2 separate regions of the Homo sapiens genome follow, and region 2 is linked to region 1. Evidence: fine-mapped expression QTL. A gene starts in region 1. The other region holds a variant in brackets. All regions are shown on one strand. Distances are from middle to middle.

Evidence for each region. PIP is the estimated chance that this variant, and not a neighbour inherited with it, causes the effect. A credible set is the group of variants that fine-mapping cannot tell apart.
Region 2: its variant is the best candidate, but not a certain one, in a credible set for the expression of EPB41 in whole blood (TOPMed, PIP 0.58).

What each region holds. Positions count from the first base shown.
Region 1 is chr1:28,911,674-28,917,048 of GRCh38, reverse strand. It overlaps EPB41 (erythrocyte membrane protein band 4.1), which reads right to left and starts at 2,480. Exons shown (of 21, transcript NM_001376013.1): 1 at 2,281-2,480. RefSeq lists an enhancer at 1,676-1,835 and a silencer at 2,056-2,715.
Region 2 is chr1:28,854,664-28,860,038 of GRCh38, reverse strand. It overlaps OPRD1 (opioid receptor delta 1), which reads right to left. Exons shown (of 3, transcript NM_000911.4): 2 at 736-1,085. Among named protein-coding and RNA genes, the nearest start is that of OPRD1, 45 kb to the right of the region's middle. RefSeq lists an enhancer at 4,589-5,090. The variant C/T (reference allele first, on the strand shown) is at 2,736.

The DNA of each region.
Region 1 (5,375 bases):
GAGGCCCAGGGAGGAGGATCTCTTGAGTCCAGGAATTCAAGACCACCCTAGGCAACATAGTGAGACTGTCTCTACAAAAAATAAAAAGACATTAGCCAAGCATGGGGGCACACGCCTATAGTCCCAGCTACTAGGGAGGCTGAGGCAGGAGGATCACTTGAGCCCAGGAGTTTAAGGCTGCAGTGAGCCGTGATCATGCCACTGCACTCCAGCCTGGGTGACAGAATGAGACCCTGTTTAAAAAAAAAAAAAATTGTTGGGAGAATTTTGGTAAAACCTACAGATTAAAAACATTTATTTCTAAGCCTGAATTCAAACATACAAGGAAAAATGTATAGTTTTGTTGGTAGAAGACAGAGGAATCAGAAGGTTGGCATTCTGAACTTATGTTCAACAATGAGTTCACCTTTTTTTGAGACAGTTTTGCTCTGTTGCCCAGGTTGAAGTGCAGTGGTGCAATCTCGGCTCACTGCAACCTCCGCCTCCTAGGTTCAAGCGATTCTCCTGCCTCCACCTACTGAGTAGGTGGGATTACAGGCACATGCCACCACACCCAGCTACTTTTTTGCATTTTTAGTACAGATGGGGTTTCACCATGCTGGCCAGGCTAGTCTCGAACTCCTGACCTCAAGTGATCCACCCGCCTTGGCCTCCCAAAGTGCTGGGATTACAGGCGTGAGCCACCGTGCCCGACATAGTTCACTTTTAATAGTGCCAAAGATATACTGTACTTGTTTCCCCAGGTGTATGAATAATATCTATATTTACCTTAATTATAAGCTTCTTATAGAAAGCACACTGAATTAACTACTTTGATTCTAAGGCAATCTGGTGTTCAGTTATTACATCTATTTTTGAATCTGCCATTTATTGAGTGCTTACTGTACGCCAGATAGCATGTACGCTACATGGATTATATTAATAACACCCCAAACCAAAAATTTTACAACTGGCGAAGAACTGATTACACTTTCAATTTACAGAAAAGGAAAATGAAGAGTACATCAAGTTTCCATAAAAAGTAGGGGTTAGTGCTACATTAACAAAACTGGGACGGGAAGAAACATATACGGGCTATATATCCTGCTTTTGATTAAAGGGATCAAACCAACTAAAATTTTTGCCAGGACTGAGAATACAGAAAACAACAATGAGCAACAGCATTGACTACAGTACATCCTCAAGAGAGTATAAATCCACTATAATAATATCCAAGACACAAGACACAACCATTTCTTGCAATTTTCCCTAAAAACAGAAGGGAAGAAAATAGCAGCTGTGAAATCACCCAGACTACAAAAAAAAAAAAAAAAAAAAGCATCTGAAAAAAAAAAAGGAAAAAGAAAAAACTATCTCCTAATGAACAACTACATGCCAAAAAACAAGTCTCCACAGACTAGTCATTTATGGCAGGGTACAGGGTACAGTTAAAGAAACAACAGGATGACAGTCGCTATCATGTGGCCAGAAACCAGTCCATCAGCAATCTGTTTCACGTGAGATCACTTTTTCTCAAGAGAATGCCTGTTCTTGGGGAGCATGACCTGTTTTGGCAAAACCTCCCCAGGAATAATGGCCTGCTGGTCAATCTCGGAGGGCGAGCCCAGACCCGGCCTCTCCACAGGTACAGCAGCCCAGCGAGCACGGAGGAAGATTTCCAAGCCGACAGATGCGCGAACTGAAAAAGGAGGTCACGACGCTGAGAGAATAGATTTAACCCTCTGCTCGCTGGGAACCCAGAAGACTAAGGGGGAACATGTTTTTCAATGATGCAGGCGTCGGTGGCGGGAAGGCCTGCGAAGTCTTGCCAGGGCTCCCTGCAGTCCTCAGATTCCGCCTGACTTCTGCAGACAGCCCAGCTCCCTCGCCAGGAAGAAATCGCTCCGCGGCTGCACGCAACACCTTCACCGTCTGAAACCTGCGATTCTCCGCATTTGGTTTCCTCCCGAGGCTCCTGCACACCGCACCGTGATTGACGCACCCGAGGGGACCGTCAAAAATACATCTCAAGCCTAACTTTCCAACACTCCCGCGACGCAACCCCTTCCCCTTTCCTCAGCGGCTCTGGCCCGCCCCTCGCTCCTCGGGCCGCGTCCCGGCTGGCGACTCGGCGTGCACACGAGGCTCCTCCGCGGGAGAGCCCGCGCCCCGGCCCGGGGCCTGTCGGGGGTTGCAGACAAAGAGGCTGCAGCGCCGCCGCGGCCGCCAGGACCGTCCCCACGGGGACAGCTCCACGCCCACCGCCCCGGCTCCCGCGCCGCCGCCGCCGCCTCGCCTCACCGGTGGCTCCGGGGCCGGGCTCCTGCGCCCGCCACTGCTGCAGCCCGACGAACAATGGCAGGAGGAGGCGCCGGCGTCCGAGGCTCGGGCCCTCTGCGGCTCGCGGGCCCGCCGGCTGCTGCTGGCTGACTGACTAAACGCACCAGCGGAGGGAGGGAGCGAGCGAGCGACCCTGGCGCGCGCCCTCCCGCCTTCCCTCTGCGAGGCGAGGCCAGCCCGGCCCGCAGCCCGCCCGCCGGCCCGCGCCCCTCCCCCTCAGTTCGCCACAACATTGTAGTAAATTTCTATTGGGCCGCGCCGGAGGGAAGGAGGGGGCCGGGCCCGCGGCCCGTCCGCCCATTGGCTGAGGCCAACTTCTAGCTCCCCTTGTTTCCCCCCTCCCCTAGGCCGGTAAGGAGAGGAGAGGGGAACGAAAAAGAGAGAGGAAAAGGCAAGGGGCTGGCCGCGTGTGCGCACGCGCAAGTCGAACCCGGTCTGGAGCCGGGGTGTTCCGGGATCCCGCAGCACCCACGTGGGGCATGAGGCAGCTAGAGCCCTGGACGGTGAGGCCCTTTCCTCCTTCCAAGTAAGAGGCCGAGATTTGGAAGCCTCAGGGAAGTAACTCGCGTAGAGGTTGTAGCCAGGCTACCCCAACTGACTCCCCCTAAACGCTTAGTGACCTCGGGTAAGTCACTCAGCTTCTCTGTACCTCAGTTTCCCCATCCACTAGTTTGACTGTCTCTAGGCGCCCTTCCAACCCTGACATTCGATGAGACTTTACCTCTCGTGCCAGCTGTGTAAGGCCTGAAATGGAAGCTAAGTGTTGAGACCACGCCAAGATTGAACCTGTCTTCTGCATTTAAGGATCTCCTAATTCCCCCCTGGCAATCTCAACATTATAAAGACCTAGCTTCCGAGGTCTGGTCTCCAGATGAACTGAGGGTTGCTCTGACAATTGCTTAGTGTGTCTTTATTTCCTTCCAGAAGTGTCAGAGACCCCTTGACCCTTCCTACTCCCTGCTAGGCTGGTCTGTGAACAGGCTTCGGACCCACAGTGCAGAAAGAAGGCTTTTGTTTTAAGCATGATACCTAGAAGGTAAGATAGGATCTGGTGTTCTATTTTAGAGATGAGGAAACTGAAGCAGAGAGACTTAAAACTGACAGGATAAGAAGCCAGGCCATCTGACAGCAGAGTCTGTAGATGCCAGCTAGACATTCCTGATATCTAATCACAGCCCCTTCACGATCCCAGCACAGCCTCTGGAAACAGATTGCCTGGGTTCAATTCTTAGTCTCCAGCCTTTTCTAATGGTTTGATTTTCATTTTTCTTTTATTTATTTATTTATTTATTTGAGACGGAGTCTCGCTCTGTCACCAGGCTGGAGTGCGGTGCCGGAATCTCGGCTCACTGCAACCTCTGCCTCCCGGGTTCAAGCGATTCTCCTGCCTCAGCCTCCCGAGTAGCTGGGACTACAGGCGTGTACCACCACGCCCAGCTAATTTTTGTATTTTTAGTAGAGACGGGGTTTCACCGTGTTAGTCTCGATCTCCTGACCTCGTGATCCGCCCTTCTCGGCCTCCCAAAGTGCTGGGATTACAGGCTTGAGCCACCGCGCCCGGCTGTGCCTCATTTTTCAACACCATAAAAGGGGATAATATGTCCAAGTAGCTGGGACTCCCACCTATAGTGGGAGGCTGAGGTGGGAGGATTGCTCAAGCACAGGAGTTCAAGGCCACAGTGAGCTAGGATCATGCCATTCCACTCCAGCTTGGGCAACAGAGCAAGACTCCATCCCTAAAAACAAAAACGAGGGTTGGGGGAGGGAGAAGGATAATAATAGTTCCCACCTCACAGAGTTACTGTAAGAATTAGGCCAGGCATGGTGGCTCATGCCTGTAATCCCAGAACTTTGGGAGGCTGAGGCAGGCGGATCACCTGAGGTCAGGAGTTCGAGACCAGCCTGGCCAAATGGTGAAACCCCATCTCTACTAAAAATACAAAACTTAGCTGGGCCTGGTGGCAGGCACCTGTAATCTCAGTTATTCTCGGAGGTTGAGGCAGGAGAATCACTTGAACCCAGGAGGTGGAGGTTGCAGAGAGCCGAGATCATGCCATTGAACTCCAGGTTGGGTGACAAGAGCAAGACTCCATCTCAAAAAAAAGAAAAAGGAAAACAGAATTAAATGAGTTAAAATATGTAAAGGACTTAGAGCAGTGCCTAGCTCATAGTAAGATCTATGTGTGTTAATTATTATTACTATTCAGAGACTAAAATGTGGACTGAGAGGTGTGGAACTGGCAAATATAATAATATATTTGTTAAGCATGCAATTGTTGTTAGCACTGAGCTGAGCACGTTATGTAAATTGTCCATTTGAAACATCATAAAACCCCTTGAAAACCACCTGACTATACCATCTAAAACACCCTCCACTCAAACACCCTTATCCTGCTTTAATTTGCTTCATAGCACTTACCCTACTTGACTTTCTACTATATATTTATTATTTATTGTGCCTCTCAAATAAATTGCTGTAATCTAGACCCACTAGACTGCAAGCTCAGGAAGGCAGGGACTGTATCTGTATTCATCTCCCAGAACAGTATACGCTCAATAAATATTTGTTGAATGAGTTAATGAACATCCTCATTTTACATATAAGGAAACTGAGTCTTAGTGAGGTCAGGTGACTTGGCCAGGGTCATTCTGTGTATGAGGGGTGAAGCACCTGTTTTTTTTTGAGAAGGGGTTTCGCTCTTTTTGCCCAGGCTGGAGTGCAATGGCACGATCTCGCCTCACCTCACTGCAACCTCTGCCTCCCAGGTTCAAGCGATTCTCCTGCCTCAGCCTCGTGAGTAGCTGGGATTACAGGCATGTGCACCACGCCTGGCTAATTTTGTATTGTTAATAGAGATGGGGTTTCTCCATGTTGGTCAGGCTGGTCTCGAACCCCCAGCCTCAGGTGATCCACCCACCTCAGCATCCCAAAGTGCTGGGATTACAGGCATGAGCCACCATGCCTGGCCACACCTGTTCTTAAATACTCTGGTCTCCTGCCTCAAGTCCTCAGGTTCAGCTGTGCTTTTTATTCAGAGTTCTAGTCCTACCACCTC
Region 2 (5,375 bases), 57 kb after region 1:
TCATCTGCCGGCCAGATGCCAGCAGTAGAAGATTCAGAAACCATCAACAGGAGGCTGGGTCCCTGAATGTCTGTGCTCCTCCTACTCACACTGGATTGTGATGGGAGTGAGAGAGAAACCTCTACAGTGTTAAGCCCCTGAGCTTTGGAGAATGTTATTGCAGCTCCCCTGATACAGGCAGTTACTATAATTACCATTTTAGCTCCTATTTGTCATTCCCTGCAGGCTATTCTCTAGGCTTTGCTTTGGTCATCCAGGCCAGTGGTTTTCAAATTAGGATGAAAGGGAGTTTAAAATGGGACCACAGATCTTGCAGCCTCCACTGCTCACTGGTCAGTGACACCCTCACCTCACTGGACATCCAACCATCTCTCTATACATCCACACATCCCTGGCCAGCCACCTACATGTACATAACCAGCCATCCATAATCTCCTTCATAAATTCATACATTCCCTTTGGCCAGCAACCCATATGACCACTGATCAGTCATTCATCTTCACAATAGTCAACCATCCGCATGCCCCCCTGGCCAGCTATTCCCATTCCCATTGGTTGACCTTCTTCTACACTCCCACTGGCCAGCCACCACACCATCATTGATCTTGATCAGAATCCAACCTCTGCTGATGAGCCACCTACACTCACCCTGGTAAGTGCCCTGCAAGCCCACAAAGGCCCATGTACTGCCTCCTGTGGTCAGTGGCCTGTGCCATGGTGCACTCACTCACTCACCCCGGGGACGGGTCACAGCCATGACCATGATGGGCACGCCAACGCCTGAGGCCAGGACCCAGATACAGATGTTGATCAGCTTGGCCTTGGCAGGCGTGCGGAAGTCCAGGGCCTTGACAGGGTGGCAGACAGCGATGTAGCGGTCAACACTCATCATGGTGAGCGTGAAGATGCTGGTGAACATATTGTAGTAGTCGATGGAGAGCACAGCCTTGCAGAGCAGCTCGCCGAAGGGCCACGTCTCCATCAGGTACTTGGCACTCTGGAAAGGCAGCGTGCTGGTGGCCAGCGCATCGGCTAAGGCCAGGTTGAAGATGTAGATGTTGGTGGCCGTCTTCATCTTAGTGTACCTTAGAAAGAAATGCATGTGTAATTAATCCCATTTCACAGATTTCAGTTTCACATGAAACTCAAGGAAGGGAAGTAGCTTTCCTAAGGACATGCAAAAGGTCAGGGGAGGCTAGGCATGGTGCCTCACAACTGTAATCCCAGCACTTTTGGAGGCCAAGGCGGGTGGATCACCTGAGGTCAAGAGTTCAAGACCATCCTGGCTAACAAGACGAAACCCCATCTCTACTAAAAATACAAAAATTAGCTGGGTGTGGTGGTGGGTGCCTGTAATTCCAGCTACTTGGGAGGCTGAGGCAGGAAAATTGCTTGAACCTGGGAGGCAGAGGTTGCAGTGAGCCGAGATTGCGCCATTGCACTTCAGCCTGAGCGATAAAAGCGAAGCTCTGTCTCAAAAAAAAAAAAAAAAAAGGGTTGGGGCAAAGGTGGGACTAGAACCCTGCACTATCTGATTTGGCATCGCTCCTTTCCCCGACAACAGAAGCAAAAGGATTTCTCTGGTTGTGAATAACTTTGGCAGAAGGTGTTTTAAGAAAAATCCTGGCCGGGCGCGGTGGCTCACGCTTGTAATCCCAGCACTTTGGGAGGCCGAGGCGGGCGGATCACGAGGTCAGGAGATCGAGACCATCCTGGCTAACACGGTGAAACCCCCTCTCTACTAAAAATACAAAAAAAATAGCCGGGCGTGATGGTGGGCGCCTGTAGTCCCAGCTACTCGGGAGGCTGAGGCAGGAGAATGGCGTGAACCCGGGAGGCGGAGCTTGCAGTGAGCCGAGATTGCGCCACTGCACTCCCGCCTGGGCCACAGAAGCGAGACTCCGTCTCAAAAAAAAAAAAAAAGAAAAAAAAAGAAAAATCCTAGGCCGGGTGTGGTGGCTCACACCTGTAATCCCGGCACTTTGGGAGGCCGAGGTGGGCGGATCACGAGGTCCAGAGATTGAGACCATCCTGACCAACCAACATGGTGAAACCCTGTCTCTACAAAAAATACAAAAATTAGCTGGGCGTAGTGGTGCACGCCTGTTGTCCCAGCTACTCGAGAGGCTGAGGCAAGAGAACTGCTTGAACCCGGGAGGCAGAGGTTGCAGTGAGCCGAGATAGTGCCATTGCACTCCAGCCTGGGCGACAGACCGAGACTCCGTCTCAAAAACAAAAAAGAAAAATCCTAAGCCAGGTGCAGTGGCTCATGCCTGTAATCCCAGCACTTTGGGGGGCCAAGGCAGGGCAGGTGGATTGCTTGAGCCTAGTTCAAAACCACCCTGGGCGACACAGTGAAACCCCATATCTACAAATAACAATAATAATAATAATAATACAAAAATTAGCCAGGCATGGTGGTGAGTGCCTATAGTCCCATCACTCAGGAGACTGAGGTGGGAGGGTCGCTTGAGCCCAGGAGGCAGAGGTTGCAGCAAGCCAAGATCGTACCACTGTACTCCGGAGTGGTTGACAGAGCAAGACACTGTCTCAAAAATAAATAAGTAAATAAAAGAAAAGAAAAAGAAAAATACTTATCTTCTGAAAGGTACTAAGCAATATGTTTAAAAATAAAACTGGGCTCCAGCAGAAAGCAAATCTGGGTTCTAATCCTGCCTCTACTACTTATTATATTAGCTGAGTGACTCTGAGTTAGAAACTTGAACTCTCTAAGG[C/T]TCTGCATCCATAACTGTAAAAAGAGGGGTAATGTTTGTAGCAACCTCTTAGGATGGCTGTGAAAATTTAATAAGCTAACACAGCACTTAGCTCCAAGCCTGATGCATGGAGAGCACTCTGGACACAATCGCTGTTCTTTTTCTTCACAGGTGAAGAATGGAGCTGGGGGCTAGACCAGAGTGACTTGATTCTCTAGCTCCTGGCACTGACCTAGCCTTTGGGGAGTATGATTGGTCAACTCTGAGGAAGGGACACTGCCTAGTAGATTGGCTGGGGTCTGAGACCCCCTGGGTGTCCTCGGTGGTAGACCAGAGCCCCCAGTCCTTCCTGCGGCTCCATCCAGGCCTCTTCATCCCCATGCAACTGGACTCACCTCTCTGCAGAAGCCACAGTGCATCCCTCTTCCCATCCACAGTGGTGTGGGGAAGCGGAGCAGGTGACAGGGTCACACATCCAACCCAAGGCATGAGCCCAGGGGTCCAGGCCAGATGTCTATAGCCAAACTCTGCACCCAGCACTCCCAGCATCCCTCCATGCTCTCTGCCCTGCACAGCTATCTACATTACAGTTGGCCCCTTGTTTGGCCAGTTTACAGCCATGGCCCCTTCTGCACCAGGGCCTGGGCAGGGCAACAGGTAGCCTGGGGGAGACTGCATACACTGAGCCAGACCTTCCCAAATGCAGTGTCACCACCACAGCAACACACGGGCACCCCGAGACAGGGCTATATGACGCTGCTCTCATGCCTCTGGAGTGATCTGAGATACCCAGAGGAGGGTTACATGAGTGACTCCTTGAATTCCAGAGCAGGAAGAGAGACACATTGAGGGGAAGTGATTTTATTAAAGCGTGGCCTGAGGTATCGCTTCAGAATTACCGGAAGAGCCTGGAAGAAATGCAGGGTCCTGAACTGCACCTCAGATCTGAGCGATCTTTATCTCTGGAACTGGGGCCTGGGAATCTTCATCTTTAAGAAGCACCTCCTCACCCCAAGTGATTCTTATGAACTCAAAAGTTTGAGAATTACTATGTAGCCTAAAGCCTCCATTTGGGAGAGACAGGGAGATTGAAGCCCAGAGAGGCAGCAGGACTCACCCAAGGTCACACAGCAACAGTGGCGGAGCCAAGGCGAGAACTGAGACCTCCTGACTCCCACGCTCCCTCTTTCCACCACCCCAAGGGTGGCCCCATACTGTATGCCTCCATTCCTTTAGAATCGCTCTGATCCCATGCCCAGCCCTGGACACCTAGGACGAGGCACTCAGTGTTTTTGAATGACGGAATAAACTCGCATCAGCTAAGGCTGTTCCTGCATGAAGTGACTGGTATTTTTGGTTGAAAAGAAATTGACTCACTCATTGTCCTCCAGGGCAGCATCTATCCTACTCCCTCCCAAATAGCTGTCATTTGCTCTGGGGCTGGAGAAGGAAAAAGTTTTGCTCAGATACAGCAGAATTGCAAGTCTCAGGAAGTGTCTTCAGTGGGGTGTGGGATCACAGCTGTGTGGGAGGCGGTCTCAACCCCACAGCTGACTCGTCTAATTTCTCTGCTCTTACGCAGAACAATTAGAGGCTGTTCTTTGCCTGCTATTTTGATTTGTGAAGGATCCTTCCATTCCCAGAGGGGGCTGGGATGCTGGGAAGTGGGTGATGAAGCTGCTGTAGTTGGTCCAAGCGGGCTGAGCGGCCCAGCGCTGATTGCCCGCCAGGTAGGGCCCCGGGCTCCTCTCCTCACGGCCCCCCTCTCTCCCCTCCACCCACAGCCACGCCCCGTCCTTCTGGCCACCGTAGACTCCCTTCTCCAGCCCCAAGACAAATCATGCCACTCCCCTGCTCTCAGTCCCCCAGCGACTTCCCAAAATTCTCTCTGTTCTGCAAGCTGCCCCGACTACCTTTGGGATCTCAGTTCCCAGCATGTTCCCCTCCACCGATGTGCCCCTGCCACACACTGGCCTCTTTGATGTTCCCTGGACACGTCAAGCCCGCTCCCACCTCCCCACTTCGGGGCCTCTGGACTTGCTCTTGCCTCTGCCTGGAACCCCGGTCCCCCCATATTTTGCATGGCTTGCTCCATCACTTAATTCAGGACTCTATTCAAATGTCACCTCCTCAGGGAGGCCCTCCCTGACCACTCTATCTAAAGTACCATCCTCCCCACCAACTCTCTCTAGCTCCTTCAGCGGCTTCATTTTTCATTACAGCACAAACCACTTCCTGACTTACATTCATCTTCTTTTCTGCCCACTTGGGTCTCTCGCCCATGTAAGTTCCCTGAAGCCAGAAGACTTCGTCCATTTTGTTCCCTGCTGTACCCTTGGGCCTACCAGCAGTGCCCGGCAAAAAAGCAGGCTCTCAGCCAGGCGCAGTGGCTCATGCCTGTAATTCCAGCACTTTGGGAGGCTGAGGTGGGTGGATCACGAGGTCAGGAGTTCGAGACCAGCCTGACTAACACGGTGAAACCCCGTCTCTACTAAAATACAAAAATTAGCCGGGCGTAGTGGCATGCTCCTGTAATCCCAGCTACTTAGGAGGCTGAGACAGAAGAATTGCTTGCACCCAGGAGGCGGAGGTTGCAGTGAGCCTAGATCATGCCACTGCACCCCAGCCTGGGTGACAGGGTGAGACTCTGTCTCAAAAAAA